2 separate regions of the Homo sapiens genome follow, and region 2 is linked to region 1. A link means that fine-mapping ties the variant in region 1 to the expression of a gene that starts in the linked region. Tissue or cell type: whole blood. Region 1 holds a variant in brackets; the other region holds the start of a gene. All regions are shown on one strand. Distances are between the middles of the regions.

The links. PIP is the estimated chance that this variant, and not a neighbour inherited with it, causes the effect.
Region 2: NDUFC2 starts here. The variant in region 1 is fine-mapped to the expression of NDUFC2 in whole blood (TOPMed, PIP above 0.99).

The regions. Positions count from the first base shown.
Region 1 is chr11:78,098,295-78,106,397 of GRCh38, reverse strand. ALG8 (ALG8 alpha-1,3-glucosyltransferase) reads left to right here. Exons shown (of 13, transcript NM_024079.5): 11 at 1,945-2,042; 12 at 2,346-2,418; 13 at 5,203-5,452. The coding sequence ends at 5,434. Among named protein-coding and RNA genes, the nearest start is that of NDUFC2-KCTD14, 22 kb to the right of the region's middle. RefSeq lists a silencer at 1,201-1,495. The variant C/T (reference allele first, on the strand shown) is at 4,657.
Region 2 is chr11:78,076,031-78,084,133 of GRCh38, reverse strand. NDUFC2 (NADH:ubiquinone oxidoreductase subunit C2) reads left to right here and starts at 4,272. Exons shown (of 3, transcript NM_004549.6): 1 at 4,272-4,555. The coding sequence starts at 4,390. It overlaps NDUFC2-KCTD14 (NDUFC2-KCTD14 readthrough), which reads left to right and starts at 4,272. Exons shown (of 3, transcript NM_001203262.2): 1 at 4,272-4,555. The coding sequence starts at 4,390. LOC105369401 (a long non-coding RNA gene) reads right to left here and starts at 2,939. Exons shown (of 3, transcript XR_950342.2): 1 at 2,693-2,939; 2 at 602-804. RefSeq lists a silencer at 4,100-4,289 and an enhancer at 4,493-4,552.

The sequences.
Region 1 (8,103 bases):
GTGAAACCCCATCTCTACTAAAAATACAAAAAATTAGCTGGGCATAGTGGCACATGCCTGTAGTCCCAGCTACTCGGGAGGCTGAGGCAGGAGAATTGCTTGAACCCGGGAGGAAGAGGTTGCAGTGAGCCGAGATCGCACCACTGCATTCCATTCTGGGTGACCGAAGGAGACTCTGTCTCAAAAATGAAAAAAAGAAAAAACTTGGGCTTTGGTGTCATCCCGTCTGAAAATAAGGTCCCATGGTTCCTTGTTAAGTGTTGTTAGTCAAAGTAAGGATTTAGTCTATTCTGGAATAATACCTGATACTGTACTACATTTCAGATTTTCCAGAACTGTTTTTGTTTTGCATTCTTTCTTTTGCGCCTCACAATAATCTTTAAGATAATTGGCCAGGCATGGTGGCTCACATCTGCAATCCCAGTACTTTCGGAGGCTGAAGCGGTGGTTCACTTGATGCCAGGAGTTTGAGATCAGCCTGGCCAACATGGCAAAATCCCATCTCTACTAAAAATACAAAAATTAGCCAGGCATGGTGGTGCATGCCTGTAATCCCAGCTACTTGGGAGGCTGAGGCATGAAGATCCTTTGAACCTGGGAGGTGAAGGTTGCAGTGAGCCAAGATGGCGCCACTGCACTCCAGCCTGGGGCAATAGAGTGAGACCCTGTCTCAAAAAAAGAAAAAAAAAAAAGATAGTTAAAATAAATGGGTATTATTCCCTTTTTTTTCCTTTCTTTTTTTTTTTTTTACTTTTTGGTAGAGACAGGGTCTTGCCATGTTGCCTAGGCTGGTCTCAAACTACTGGGCACAAGCAGTCTTCCTACCTCAGCCTCCCAAAGTGCTGGGATTGCAGATGTGAGCCAACAAAACAGGCTTATTCCCTGTCTTAACATCTGAAGAATCTAGGGCTCAAAATGTTTGTGACTTGTCCAAAGTCATACAGGTCGCAAGAATTAGAGTTAGGACCTGAATCTTATGATGTTGAATCTATGATCTTTTCACTATGCCATGCTAAAAAAACCATTTTAAATGTAAGTGTCCAGTTTAGGCATAGTTGAAACCCAATAGATAAATAAATGGTAATAATAGCCTCTTTCTTTATATTTTTCTTGAATCTTGAGAAATCATTTAAGCTCTGAACATATATTAAGCAAATTTGTCAGGCCAGTATGTGGCTTGTCTGGGTTTATTTAGCAGCTTGGAGTTTCCAAATTAAAAAGTAAAGCAAAAACTTTTAATGTCTTTAGTCTGAATTCACACCAAACACCAGCAGGTGAAGGGCATTGTCCAAGAGATGAGCTATAGGGTTGGAAATGAAACTCCAAGTCCTGTTTCCCTGACTGCCACCACTAGGCAGCTCCCAATCCCACAACATTCCTGTCTTTGGAGAAGGCAATTACTCAGGGAAGCAAGATTCTTTTTTTTTTTTTTTTGAGACAGAGTCTCGCTCTGTTGCCCAGGCTGGAGTGCAGTGGCGCGATCTCGGCTCACTGCATCCTCTGCCTCCCAGGTTCAAGCAATTCTCCTGCCTCAGCCTCCTGAGTAGCTGGGATTACAAGCACCCGCCACCATGCCCAGCTAATTTTTGTATTTTTAGCAGAGACAGGGTTTCACCATGTTGGCCAGGCTGCTCTTGAATTCCTGACCTCAGGTGATCCTCCCGCCTCGGCCTCCCAAAGTGCTGGGATTAAAGGCATGAGCCACTGTCCCCGGCCAGAAGCAAGATTCTTTTACGATACCCCTGATTCAGTTTGATACATGCTATTGATTGCTTAAAATTTCCTACTAAAAAATTAATATTCTCAACTAAATTGAACTTGTGCCAAAATCAGCATGTTCTTCTATGCCTCAGCCAGTTCTAATGTAATAGGAGATGCAGTTTATTTAAGCTATTTGCAAGTGTAATAACAGTTGTTGTTTTAAGAAATTATTTTTATTTTTAGCCTTTTGTCTGTGGGAAAAGCAGGAGACGCTTCGATTTTTCTGATTCTGACCACAACAGGACATTATTCCCTCTTTCCTCTGCTCTTCACTGCACCAGGTAAACAGCGTCTTCTGAGAAAAATATATTTGACTATCACAACCTTTTCATCGAGGCCCACAGATTAATACATCTAATTTAAACAACTCTAAAATCTCTTGGATAGAGATCATTCATCCTCTTAAATAAAACCTCCAATTTCCTGTAATTCTCAGCATCTCTAGATGTCACAAAAATGTAAAATTAAACTTAAAAAGTATTATTAGCACTATATAGCTGTGTCAGTGTGCTTATATTACTTTCAGCATCATAAGTCTTTCTGTCATCAGCTAAATTATCTTTTTTTTTCTATTCTTTTAACAGAACTTCCCATTAAAATCTTACTCATGTTACTATTCACCATATATAGTATTTCGTCACTGAAGACTTTATTCAGGTAATCAAAAAAATGTTTAAAATTATACTTACTCTTGTGAAATGTTTACACCTAAGTGGTCAAATAAGCTCTTTAAATTTTATTTTTAAGTTATAACAGTAATATGACAACATTACAAAAAAAATTGGTAAATAGAGGGAGAAATCACTCAATCCCATCACTCAGTCGAGACAACATAGTTTGTGTCTTTAGTTTGGGGGAGTATTTGAGGAGGACTACTTAAATTAAAATCCTATATGAAAACTCAAAAACTGAATGTAAAATATGCTTTATGAATAAAACTATTAAATACAGATAGATATGGAAAAAACTAAAAGATACTATGTACAAATTTTTTTTGTTCGTTTTTTTGAGACGGAGTTTTGCTCTTGTTGCCCAGGCTGGAGGGCAATGGCGTGATCTCGGCTCACCACACCCTCCGCCTACCGGGTTCAAGCTATTCTCCTGCCTCAGCCTCCCAAGTTACTGGGATTACAGGCATGCGCCACCATGCCCAGCTAATTTTTTTTTTTTTGGAGACGGAGTTTCACTCTTGTCGCCCAGGCTGGAGTGCAGTGGCGCGATCTCCACTCACTGCAACTTCCGCCTCCTGGGTTCAAGCGATTCTCCAGCCTCAGCCTCCTGAGTAGCTGAGATTATAGGTATGCATCACTACCACACCTGGCTAATTTTTTATATTTTTAGTAGAGGTGGGGTTTCACCATGTTGGCCAGGCTGCTCTCGAGCTCCTGACGTCAGGTGATCCACTTACCTTGGCCTCCCATAGTGCTGGAAGTACAGGCGTGAGCTGCTGTGCCCGGCTAATTTTGTATTTTTATTAGAGATGGGGTTTCTCTGTGTTGGTCAGGCTGGTCTTGAACTCCCAACCTCAGGTGATCCACCCACCTCGGCCTCCCAAAGTGCTGGGATTACAGGCGTTGAGCCACCGCACCCAACTATGTACAAATTTTACTACAGAATTATAGATGGAAACTTTTTCTCTTCTAAACTGTATGTAATGTTAACTATAATTTTTTTTTTTTTTTTTTGAGACGGAGTTTCACCCTTGTTGCCCAGGCTGGAGTGCAATGGCACGATCTCAGCTAACTGAAACCTCCGCCTCCCAGGTTCAAGCGATTCTCCTGCCTCAGCCTCCCTAGCAGCTAGGATTACAAGCATGCGCCACCACACCCAGCTGATTTTGTATTTTTAGTAGAGATGGGTTTCTCCATGTTGGTCAGGCTGGTCTCAAACTCCTGACCTCAGGTGATCCACCGTCCTTGGCCTCCCAAAGTGCTGGCATTACAGGTGTGAGCCACCATGCCCGGCCAACTGTAATTTTTTAAAGCTTGCTTATGGTTCATAACTGTGTCCATAAAAACTTATATAATTAACTATGTTAAAATGCAGTTATAGCCATGTGACCCAGCAATTCCACCCCTATACCCAAAAGAATGGAAACAGGGACTCAACAGATACTTGTACATCAGTATTCATTGTAGCATTATTCATACTAGCTAAAAGATGGAAACAACCCAATGTCCATCAACAAATACATGATAAAGTGTGATATATACATATAGTGGATTATTCAGCCAAAGAAAAGAATGAAGTTCCAATACATGCTACATGAATGAATCTTGAAAACATGCTAAGTGAAAGAAACGAGAGAATAGAACAAATATCATATCGTTCCACTGATAGGAAATTCTAGAATAAACAAACATAGAGACAGAAAGTAGATTAGAGGTTGAGGGAACAGGGGGATGGGAAGTTATTGTTAATGGTTCCAGAGTTTCTGTTTGGGGTCACGAAAATATTTTGAAGGTGGATAGTGGCGATGGGCGCATATTATTGATCTACTTAATACCATCAAACTGTATACTTAAAAATGGTTAAACAAATAGCAAATTTCATGTTATATATATTTTACCAAAATAAAAAATATTTTAAAAATCTGGTGAAACCTTGTCTCTATAGAAAATACAAAAATTAGCTGGGCATGGTGGCAGGCGCCTGTAATCCCAGCTACTTGGGAGGCTGAGGCAAGAGAATCGCTTGAACCCAGGAGGTGGAGGTTGCAGTAAGCTGAGATTGCACCACTGCACTCCAGTCTGGGTGACAGAGCAACGCTCCATCTCAAAAAGAAAATTTTTTTTAAATCTTCAATTCTATATTGTTTCTCATGTTCTTATTCCAATGTCACAGCACCCAACCCCTTTACCTCTTTCAAATGCAGAACTAATTCTCTCTGAGCAG[C/T]TTGAGCTAAATAACAGCATAGGTCAATGGTGGAGTAAATTTAGATTGTTGAGATAATATAACGTATATAATTATCATTTTTTTCTAAATGTGAAACTTATTTTTTATTTTTATTTATTTTTTGAGACAGAGTCTCACTCTGTCGCCCAGGCTAGAGTGCAGTGGTGCCATATCGACTCACTGCAACCCAGTTAAAGCAGTTCTCCTGCCTCAGCCTCCCAAGTAGCTGGAATTACAGGCCTGTGCCACCCTGGTCGGCTAATTTTTGTATTTTTAGTAGAGATGGGGTTTCTCCATGTTGGCCAGGTTAGTCTAGAACTCCTGACCTCAGGTGATCCACCTGCCTTGGCCTCCCAAAGTGCTGGGATTACAGGCATGAGCCTCTGCACTTGGCCCTAAATGTGAAATTTAATATACTCTTGACTCTGGCCTTGGCTATAATAATTGACAGCAAGACAGTGCAGATGGGGAAGCTTTAGCTAGGAAATGTTTGCTAAACCAGGATGACTCATCTAAAATCAGACTTTTCTCTCTTTTTTCCTTCAGAAAAGAAAAACCTCTTTTTAATTGGATGGAAACTTTCTACCTGCTTGGCCTGGGGCCTCTGGAAGTCTGCTGTGAATTTGTATTCCCTTTCACCTCCTGGAAGGTGAAGTACCCCTTCATCCCTTTGTTACTAACCTCAGTGTATTGTGCAGTAGGCATCACATATGCTTGGTTCAAACTGTATGTTTCAGTATTGATTGACTCTGCTATTGGCAAGACAAAGAAACAATGAATAAAGGAACTGCTTAGATATGTGCCAAGCAATTATTTCATGGGAAATTAACCAGAACTTGAAGAAAGTTGCCAGTGGCATCAGCCATTTGTTTCAGTAGAACTGTTCAGAGCACCATTCTTCCACACTTGGTCTTGCCCAGCCTAGCAACCGGATTGTCACCATGGTGAGAAGCCACTGGCCCTCCATAAGCACTGAAACACATCTGAAAAAAACTCACCTTTCCCTATTAAAATTGTCTGAGATCGTTCAGACTGCTGTGCTTGCTCAAGCCAAACAGGGAATCTGATTAACCGCATAATTATTTGTAGCCTATGCTAACCATTGTGAGGATATAAAGCATAATTAGAATCCTGTGCTAAGGAAATATAAATGAAATGCTATTTTGTATGCACAAAAAAACTTCTGGATCGTTACCAGCTCCTACATTTTCCTCTTGGCGTGTACACAGGCAGATGGTGTACTGTCCCCATTCTGTACACCTTGTTCGAGATTTTTTTTGTTTGAAATTATACAGTGACAATACTCACAAAGCCAAGGGGAGTAGTTAAGGTACTGGTTTGGCCAGGCAGCAGAAACTACAAACCACAGCTACTTTACATTGATTTAAGGATATCTCGTGCAGCTCATTTATTCTAACAGCAAGCACTGCAGTTTTTATAAGGCAGCCACTTAAACCTTTCATCATGCGCAGGAACTGAAGTGATTTTTGCAGTCTGGTTCTTATCCTTTCCCTTCCTTAAGAGTACTTCATATACGCTTTTTATCCAGGACCCCAATTTGTGTAATATCTGCCACACATTCAGATTCAGCCAACGTTTATCTAGTCAACAGTAGGAACTTTCACACATTTTATTTTATTTCTATTTTTTTTCAGCCCTCAGGCAGAATTCATACATTTTATTTACCCATTATCCCCTAAGATCAGAGAGACTCCAAGGTCAATGGCATTCTGAGATGGAATCCAGTTATTCCATCTCTTCCGTCTACTCCATTTTCTAAGACTTCTTTTTGGTCTGTTATTGCAGAGACAAAGATGGGGATCTTGCCAAAGGGGGAGGGAAGCGTAGCGCCTCTAACCTGTTTTCCTGCCCACAGACTCTCCTCCACCCTGTGTTCCAGCTGGCCTAACAACTTCAAACTCCCCGTGTGCCATGCTGTCTTGTACCTCTGTTCCCTTTCATTCATGCTGCTTCCTCTCCTCTCTGCTGACTTCTACCCTGTCATCTGATTATATGAACCTCTTCAAGATTCAGCTTAACTGCTACCATGTCTGTCAATATAAAGGCAGAATGGTGTAGTGATTAAGAGTAGGGCCTTAAAGTCGTATGTCCTGGTTGTAAATCTTGCCTCCATCATTTTTTTTAAAATCTGTAGGCAGGTTATTTAACCATCTTTTATCTGAATGTTCTCATCTCTAAAATGATTACATAAAAGATTAAGAACACTGCCTGATGCATTTTAAGTGCTCGGTCAATAGCATTGCTATTTATGTGAATCTTTTCCTATCCCTCTACCTTCCCTCCTCCTGCAGAATTGAGTTGCTCCCACTGTGCCAGGAGTCTGCTGATACCATTAACTGCTGTAATACTGTGTTATGCTTGTTTACCTCTTTTCCCCAGGAGACTAGCAGTTTGAGACCACACTTGTCTTCATAGCCCCAGTTTTTAGCACAGTTGAATGAATGAATGAAGCACACCAAACCAGCCATGATTAAAACCTAAATATTTTACTAGTACAAGCATTAACACAAAGGACCAGTATAGTTCCTCACGTCTTTGCTGTTGTCCAAGCCAAAAAAAAAAAAAAGTAGAAGATGAATTTGGATGGATTTCAACCTGACCAAATTTACTTTTTTGGTTGTTATTATGAAAGTGATGTGATGTCAGAACGGGAAGAGCTCATCTAGTGTAGGGATTTCCAGAATGTTCTGTAGAGCACTGGAGGTTCTTCAGTGTTGCCTCAGAGGCCCTGGGCTCTGTCCATAGTAAATAGCTTTGATCTGTTTCATATATTCACATGGCTTCATATACATTTTCATTTGACTTCAAAGTCCAAATATAGCCTTAAAGCAGTTCAGCTGAGCACAGTGACCCACACTTGTAATCCCAGCACTTTGGGAGCCTGAGGCAGACAGATCACTTGAGCCCAGGAGTTCAAGACCAGCCTGGGCAACATAGTGAGACCCTTTGTCTACAAAAAATCAAAAAATTAGCCAAGCCTGGTGACATGCGCTGTAGTCCCAGCTACTCAAGAGACTGAGGTGGGAGGATCACTTGAATCCTGGAAGTCGAGGCTAAGTGAGCTGTGTTCACACCACTGTATTCCAGACTGGGGAAGTAAGCAAGACCCTGTCTCAAAAAAAAAAAAAAAAAAAAAAAAAAGTCAATGTCTTATATTACCGGGAGGGAAATGGCTCCAGACTCTGAAGAATACCTTGTTGGTGCCAACACAGACTAGAATCTAGACTTTTTGTCTAGAGCCCAAGATTCTTTTATTCTTTTCCAAACACTATACTTTGTAATCATGTTTTAAAACTTTACAGAGATATGGGTGGTTTTCAACAACAAATTCCTAAATTTCAGTCAATAAATGAAGTGCTGGTGGCGTGTGGTGGCTCATAGCGCTTTGGGACACCGAGGCAGGAGGATCACTGGAGTCCAGGAGTT
Region 2 (8,103 bases), 22 kb after region 1:
ATAAGGCACAGATCCTGAATTAACTTGTAATACTTGTCCGGTTTTTGGACAGGTAAAATGGGGGAATTGTAAGGAGAGTTTGGAGGCTTTAGAAGCCCATACTGTAGCAGACGAGAGATAATAGGCTTTAGTCCCTTTAAAGTCTGTTGTGGGATGGGACACTGGCACTGAGGGGGGTAAGAGTGATTAGGTTTTAATAGGATAGTAATGGGTGTGTGATCGGTTGCTAGGGAGGGAGTAGAGGTATCCCATACTTGTGGGTTAAGGTGGGGGGATACAAGAGGAAGAAGTGAAGGAGGCTTTGGGTTGGGAAGAAGGGTGGCAATGAGATGTGGCTGTCGTCCAGGAATAGTCAGGGTGGTGGATAATTTTGTTAAAACATCTCAACCTAATAAGGGAACTGAGCAGGTGGGAATAACTAAAAAGGAGTGCATAAAAGAATGTTGTACAAGTTGTCACCAAAGTTGGGGAGTTTTAAGAGGTTTAGAAGCCTGGCTGTCAATACCCACAATGGTTATGTGGGCAAGGGAAACAGGTCCTTGAAAATAAGGTAATGTGGAGTGGGTAGCCCCTGTATCGATTAAAAAGGGGACAGACTTACCCTCCACTGTGAAAGTTACCCGAAGCTTGGCATCCATGATGGTCCAGGGGGCTTCCAAGGTGATTGGGCAGCGTCAGTCTTCAGCCACTAAGCTGAGCAGGTCTGGTAAGGAGTCAGTCAGAGACCCTTGGGCCAGAGCTTTAGGGGCTGGGCTCTGGAAGTGGCTGCCGGGTGAGCTGGGCGGTCTGATTTCCAGTGGGTCACTGCACAGATGGAACATGGCTTGGGAGGAATCCTGGGCTGCAGGCATTCCTTGGCCCACTGGCCAGATTTCTGGCACTTGAAGCAAGATCCTGAGGGAGGAGGTCCTGTAGGAAAGCCTGACCACTGCAGCTTAGGCATTTTGAAGTTCTTGTGTGCCGGAGGTGCAGCTGGGTTTTGTCTCACAGCAGAGGCAAGTAATTGTAACTCAGAAATGTGTTTCTGCTTGGCTGCCTCTTCTCTATTATTGTACACATTGAAGGCGAGGTTGATTAATTCCTGTTGTGGGGTTTGAGGGCCAGATTCAAATTTTTGAAGCTTTTTTCTGATGTCAGGAGCTGACTGGGTGATGAAATGCATATCAAGAATAAGACAGCCTTCTGGCCCTTCAGGGTCTAGGGCTATAAAGCATCTAAGGGTAGCCACCAAACAGGCCATGAACTGGGCTGGGTCTTCATCTTTACCTTGGGTAGTTTCTTTAAGTTTGTCATAATTAACAGATTTGTATGCTGCCTTTTTAAGCCCTTCAACTAGGCAGGAAATCATGTAATCTCACCTAGCTATACCTGAGGAACCTGCCTGATAGTGCCACTGGGGATCTTCTCAGGGAACCGTCTGTAATACCTTCCTGGAGGCCTGGCTCATAATGCCAGTGGGTGTCTGTGTGGGACTAGGCTAGAGGAAACACTCTTTCCCATTCATCTGGGGAGAGGGTAGAAATTAGGATGACATTTAAGCCACTCCAGGTTAAATTGTAAGACTGGGTTAAATACTGGAATTCATGTATATATTTGGTGGGGTCTGACGAGAAGGAGCCTAAGTGTTGATTAATTTGGGAAAGGTCTGATAGAGAAAATGGTACATGCACTCTGACGATGCCCTCAGTTCCAGCCACTTCTTGAAGAGGAAATTATTGGGCAGGTGGGGGAGTATTTGCCGCAGAACGAAATTGTAAGCTGGACCAGGTGTGGGGAGGGGAGATGATAGAAGGGTTGTAGGGTGGGGAAGTGGAGGCTGAGGAAGAGTTGGAAGCTGATTCAGCCTGGTGGGGAGCGACCTGAGGAGGAGCAGTCTAGGGAGGAGGGTAGAAGTCAGATGGGTCGGTAGAAAAGAAATATTCAAAAGACTCACCGGCACTTCAGGTTGGGACTGAAGGGACAGGCGGGAGGGAAAGAAGGAAGATTTGCGGCAAGTCGCACTGGGAACAGAGATTAGGGAAGGAACGAAGTGTAAAAAATGCCTGGATGTAGGGCACCTCAGACCATTTGCCCATTTTATGACAAAAATTATCTAGATCTTGTAGGCTGGAGAAATCGAAAGTGCTCTTTTCTGGCCATTTAGAGCCATTATCAAGTTTGTATTGGGGCCAAGTGGTGTTGCAGAAGAAAATAAGACACTTAGGTTTTAGGTCAGGTGAGAGTTGAAGAGGTTTTAAGTTTTTAAGAACACAGGCTAAGAGAGGAAGAAGAAGGAATGGAGGGCTGAAGGTTGCCCATAGTAAAAAGGTAAGTTTAGAGAAAGGAGGAGGTTGAGACATGGAGAGAGGGGGGGTGGTACTTGCCACCCAGGGGAAGTGGTACTTGCCACCAAGGTGGAAGATCAAAACAGGTGTCCCCGCAGTGATCGAACACCTCTGAAATGTGGGTGAATAATCAGGCAGGCGTCCCTGCAGTGACTAAACACAAGGGAAGACAGTCTTCCCGAGTCCATGACCAGCGCCAGAGTTTTGGGTCCACAGATAAAACGGGTCTCCTCTGTCTCTACCAGACAGGGAAAGGAACCGAAATTAAGGGAAGGGAGAGACTGAAGGGTGGTGCCGAAATTGAAAGGAGAAAGAGGTTGAGGGATAGTGAAAGAGGTTGAAGAAGAGAGTAGAAAGAGGCCACTTACCCGATTTAAAATTGGTGAGATGTTCCTTGGGCTGGTCTGAGGACCCGAGGTCGTAGGTAGATCTTCCTCACGGAGCAAAGAGCGGGAGGACAGGGGATTGATCTCCCAAGGAAGGTCCCCCGATCCAAGTCATAGCACCAAATGTCAAATGCATCCGTGTGAAGAGACCACCAACAGGCTTTGTGTGAGCAACAAGGCTGTTTATTCACTTGGGTGCAAGTGGGCTGAGTCCGAAAAGAGAATCAATGAAGGGAGATGGGGAAGGGGTTGCTTTATAGGATTTAGGTAGGTAATGGAAAATTACAGTAAAAGGTGGTTGTTATCTATTGTTAGCAGGGGAGGGGGTCACAAGGTACATGATGGGGAGATCATAAGACTTATTGTCCAGAAGAAGAATGTCACAAGGATGGTTGATCAGTTAAGGTAGGGCAGGGACCAGTCACAATGGTGGAATGTTTGTTAATCAGTTAAGGCAGGAAGTGGCTGTTTTACTTCTTTTGTGGGTTTTTGGCTGCCCCAGACTTCTTGGCTCCCGCAGGCCATCTGGACGCATATGTGCAAGTCACAGGGGTTACAATGGTTGAGCTTCGGCTGAGAGGCCTGACAGCAGAGACTGGAAAATTGCTTAACAGAATTATAAATTCCTTCTTTCATTACTCAAACCTTTTTTTTTTTCTTTTTGAGACGAAGTTTCGCTCTTGTTGACCAGGCTGGAATGCAATGGTGCGATCTCGGCTCACTGCAACCTCCACCTCCCAGGTTCAAGCGATTCTCCCCCCTCAGCTTCCCGAGCAGCCGATTATGCTGCCTCAGCCTTCCCAGTAGCTGGGACTACAGGCACCCGCCACCACGCCCAGCTAATTTTTTGTATTTTTCGTAGAGATGGGATTTCACCATGTTGGCCAAGCTGGTCTTGAACTCCTGAAGTGATCCGCTCACTTCAGCCTCCCAAAGTGATGGGATTACAGGCGTGAGTGACGGCGCCTGGCCTCATTACTCAAACCTTTAGGGAACACCTCCTCACTCAGCCATGTGTAACGACGTGAAGACCCAGAGGTGAAACATTTTAGGGTGCTGCCTCCGAATCTGAATTTCAACAATAGACTAAAACGATCCAGTCCTGGGCTTCTCTAAATTCTTTTGTTGCTGGCCAGACCTTAATTTTAGGCTTTGGAGGGAGTGTCTATGCGAATGAACGACTGAAAACTCAGAAAACGAAAACTAGCTTTTATGGAATTTCAATTAATTACGTTTATCAAAACTACGCATCATGCCCATTTGTGGGTATTGGATGAAAAGATAAATCTTTCCAGAAGGGGCAGGGGAGGGAGAGGCAATTCTGGTTGGGGAAGTTGGGAGAAAAGAAAATCAGTATCTCCTAGTCTTCGCCCAGTTTGGCTCGTTTGGGGTACTCCTCGACCCCGCGTTACCAGGCCCGTGAATCCCACTCCCACCAGAGAATTAGCGCGGGCGGACGAGCAAAGTGAAACTTAGTAGCCCGGAACTTCGCGTGCCGGGTTCCCGCAGCAACACGTACCGGGAAGCGTTTGGGCGCTGCACCGCGCTGCGCCGTGCCCGTGAGTCCGGCGCGCAGAGGAGGAGGAGAAAGCTGACCGCTTAGGCCGGGGTAGTGGTCGTCGTGGTTTTCCTTGTAGTTCGTGGTCTGAGACCAGGCCTCAAGTGGAAACGGCGTCACCATGATCGCACGGCGGAACCCAGAACCCTTACGGTTTCTGCCGGATGAGGCCCGGAGCCTGCCCCCGCCCAAGCTGACCGACCCGCGGCTCCTCTACATCGGCTTCTTGGGCTACTGCTCCGGCCTGATTGATAACCTAATCCGGCGGAGGCCGATCGCGACGGCTGGTGAGTGCTGCGCGGCCGGGATCGGCTGGGAGGAGAAGGGGTCGTAGGGCTGCAGACTGGCCCGGCCGTAGGCCCCCCTGAGGTGCTCTGCTTTTCCGTGCCTTTTTGCCTAGCTGGCCCCATCTCGCCTTTCCGGGGAGTCCGCGCCCCATTAGCTCTTTAGAATCAAGCAGAGCCAGAGTGTCATTTGGCACTTGAAGAAACTGAGGTGCAGTGAAGCAGGAACTGAGTCTGTGAAGGACCCGAAACTACTCTCCTCAGTTCGTGTTGTGCTGTGTGCGCAAATGAGCCATGACTCCATGCCATGCACTACTCACACTGTGGGCATTATTGATAGCATTTCGGCCTTAAAACACTTTTAGGGATGTATTATTCACAACGAGGAAACCGAGCCTAACAGATTAACAGCAGCTTGCCCAAGGTCATATGGCTATTAAGTAGCAGAGCTTGGTTTTTTTTTTTTTTGACCTCTGAATGGATATTGGACACCAGTGCTTCTCAAACTTAATGTGCATACGAATAGCATAGGTGTCTTGTTAAAATTCGGATTCTGGGCTGCGCGAGGTGGCTCACACCTGTAATCCCAGCGCCTTGGGAGGCCGTGGCGGGCGGATCGCCTGAGCTCAGGAATTCGATACCAGTATGGGCAATAGGGCGAAAACCCGTCCCTACAAAAAAATACAAAAGTTAGCCGGGCGTGGTGGTGCACGCCTGTGGTCCCAGGCTGAGGGAGGCTGAGGCAGGAGGGTCGTTTGAGCCTGGAAGGCAGAGGTTGCAGTAAGCCGAGATTGCACCATTGCACTCCAACCTGTGCAACAAAGTGAGACCCTGTCTCAAAAAAAAAAAAAAAGCGGATCCTGATTCATGAGGTCTGGGGAGGAACTTGATGTTAACAACAAGCGCTCAAACACTGCTGCTGCTGGTCTGAGGACCACGGTTTGAATAGGAGGCTCTAAACCAGTGTGCTGTACTTCCCAGTAGTATGTCACTGGCTTCCTATCAGAGACACTGACTATTCTGATAATAACCACCACAGTAGCTTTGCTAAGCTCTATGGATTTCCAGAGGGAAAAGAGGAGAGGAACTTTGGAAGAGGGGTCTTTGAAGTTAACTTTGATTATCAGGCAGGACTGAGAGACAGACAGCTTTCTAGGCCCGTGGGGCTAGTGGGAGCTAATGGGGGCAAGGACCTCTGAATGGAGGGTGTTTGATGATTGAGTGAGTGTTCAGGTTTAGATAAAACTGCAAGGGAGATTTTAGCAGAGCATGGCAATTTATTTTCTAGGCAGTCAGGAACTTTGTAAGCTTTTGAGAGCTGCAAGGGTGCAGTGATGAGCTCTGTATTTTAAAAAGTCATCTTTGTCAGCAATGTGAGGCGTTGATTGGAGCCAAGAAGCACAATCAGGAAAAAAGCTCAGGCAATGGTTCAGGCAATTAGGAGTCACCACACTTGTACCTCTTTTGCCTTCTTACAGCTGTATGTCATGCCTGAAGGTCAGCTCCCAACCCATCAAATCCCACATTTCCAGTGCTCAAATAGTATTGAAGTCCTATCTCCCTTGGACATAACTCCTCACTTCAGAAAGGAGTCATCTTTGTCCGTTTATGCCTCTGAGGACTCGAGGTTTTCCCTTTTCATCACCACTTCATATTTGCCCAAGACTGTCACTTGGTGTAATGAAAAGAGCTCCACTTTGGAACTAAACAAACTTGCTCACTAGGCACAGGCACTGTGGTTCACACCTGTAATCCCAGCACTTTGGGAGACCAAGGCAGGAACATCTCTTGAGGCCAGGAGTTCAAGACCAGCCTGGGCAACATAGTGAGACCCTGTCTCTACAAAAAAATTTAAAAAATTAGCCAGGCATGGTGATGTGCACTTGTAGTCCCAGGTACTCAGGAAGCTAAGGGAGGAGAATCACTTGAGCCCAGGAGGTTGAGGCTGCAGCGAGCCACGATTGCACCACTGCACTCCAGCCTGGGCAACAAAGTTGAGACCTTGTCTCCAATAAATAAATAAATAAACAGACTTGCTCTGCTGCTTTCCAGCTGTGTCACTTTGGGCAAGTTACATGGTCAGGTCGATCAGAGCCAAAGTTTCCTCATCTATAAAATAAGAATAATTAATTTTTGCATATTTGTTGTGAGAATTGAGTGAGATTCTGTAGGTAAAATGTCTGACATGCAAAAGGTGCTGGACAGAGTTCCCCTTCCTTAGCTCTTGTTATGCAAACAGTTTACCATATATTTGTAAATTGTTCATTTACAGAACCCTTTTTTTTTTTTTGAGACAGGGTCTCACTCTGTCACCCAGGCTAGAGGGCAGTGGTGCACTCATGGCTCACTGCAGCCTCGACCTCCTGGGCTCAGGCGATCCTCCTATCCTAGCCTTCCAAGTAGCTGGGACTACAGGTACATACCACCAGGCCTGGCCAATTTTAAAATTTTTTGTAGAGATGGGGTCTTGCCATCTTGGCCAGGCTGGTCTCAAACTTCTGGCCTCAAGTGATCCTGCCACCTCGGCCTCCCAGAGTGCTGGGGTTATAGGTGTGAGCCACTGTGCCTGGCCTTACTTAACTGTTTCTCTGTTATGTGCCCTATGGAGCTCCTAGTGAAATCAGGGAGACAAACAGGTAAACAGCCTGTTGCTGATCTTGGTATGATAGATACATGTTTTGATAGAGGTGGGTGAGCAGAAAGCACTTTAGGAGCACAAAGGAGATACAGTTGGGAGGGAGAATGCTCTAGAGGAAGTAAAGGTTGGCTGAAATGTGACGTATGTACCACTTAATCTCGTTGTTAGTTTAGCCGTTTGTGCCTTTCTGGGAGACAGAAGAGTATAGCAGTTAAGAGCATATGCTTTGGGGTTTGACATCACCTCCACCCTACTAGTAATTTGATTCTGAGGAAGTTACCTATCTCTGAGGACTGGATGAGATAATGAATATAAACTGCTTAGCCCAGGAGTAGGGATCAGACTTCCTGAGTTCCCAGAGCTTCCCTAAATTGCTTTGGAAGATTTAGGTCCTAGGACTTTGTTGAAATGGTTGTCCTCAACAGCATTTACTGAATGCATATTGTGTTTATCTAGCTCAGTGTCTAATATCTATAGTAGGTGTTCAGTAAGTATTGAGTGAGGTCACGTGTGGTGGCTCATGCCTGTAATCCCAACATTTTGGGAGGCTGAGGCGGGTGGATCACCTGAAGTCAAGAGTTCAAGACCAGCCTGACCAACATGGTGAAACCCTGTCTTTACTAAAAATACAAAAATTAGCCAGGCGTGATGGCACATGCCTGTAATCCCAGCTACTCGGGAGGCAGAGGCTGGAGAATTGCTTGAACCTGGGAGGTGGAGATTTCAGTGAGCCGAGATTGTGCCATTGCACTCCAGCCTGGGCGACAGACTGAGACTCTGTCTTTAAAAAAAAAAAAAAGTAGTATTGAGTGAATAAGTATATGTAGATTACAAGGAATATAAAACATGGTCCCAATCCTCCAAAGGTTTACAGACCAGATGGCCATATCCATTAAAAAGACAAATTGTGGTA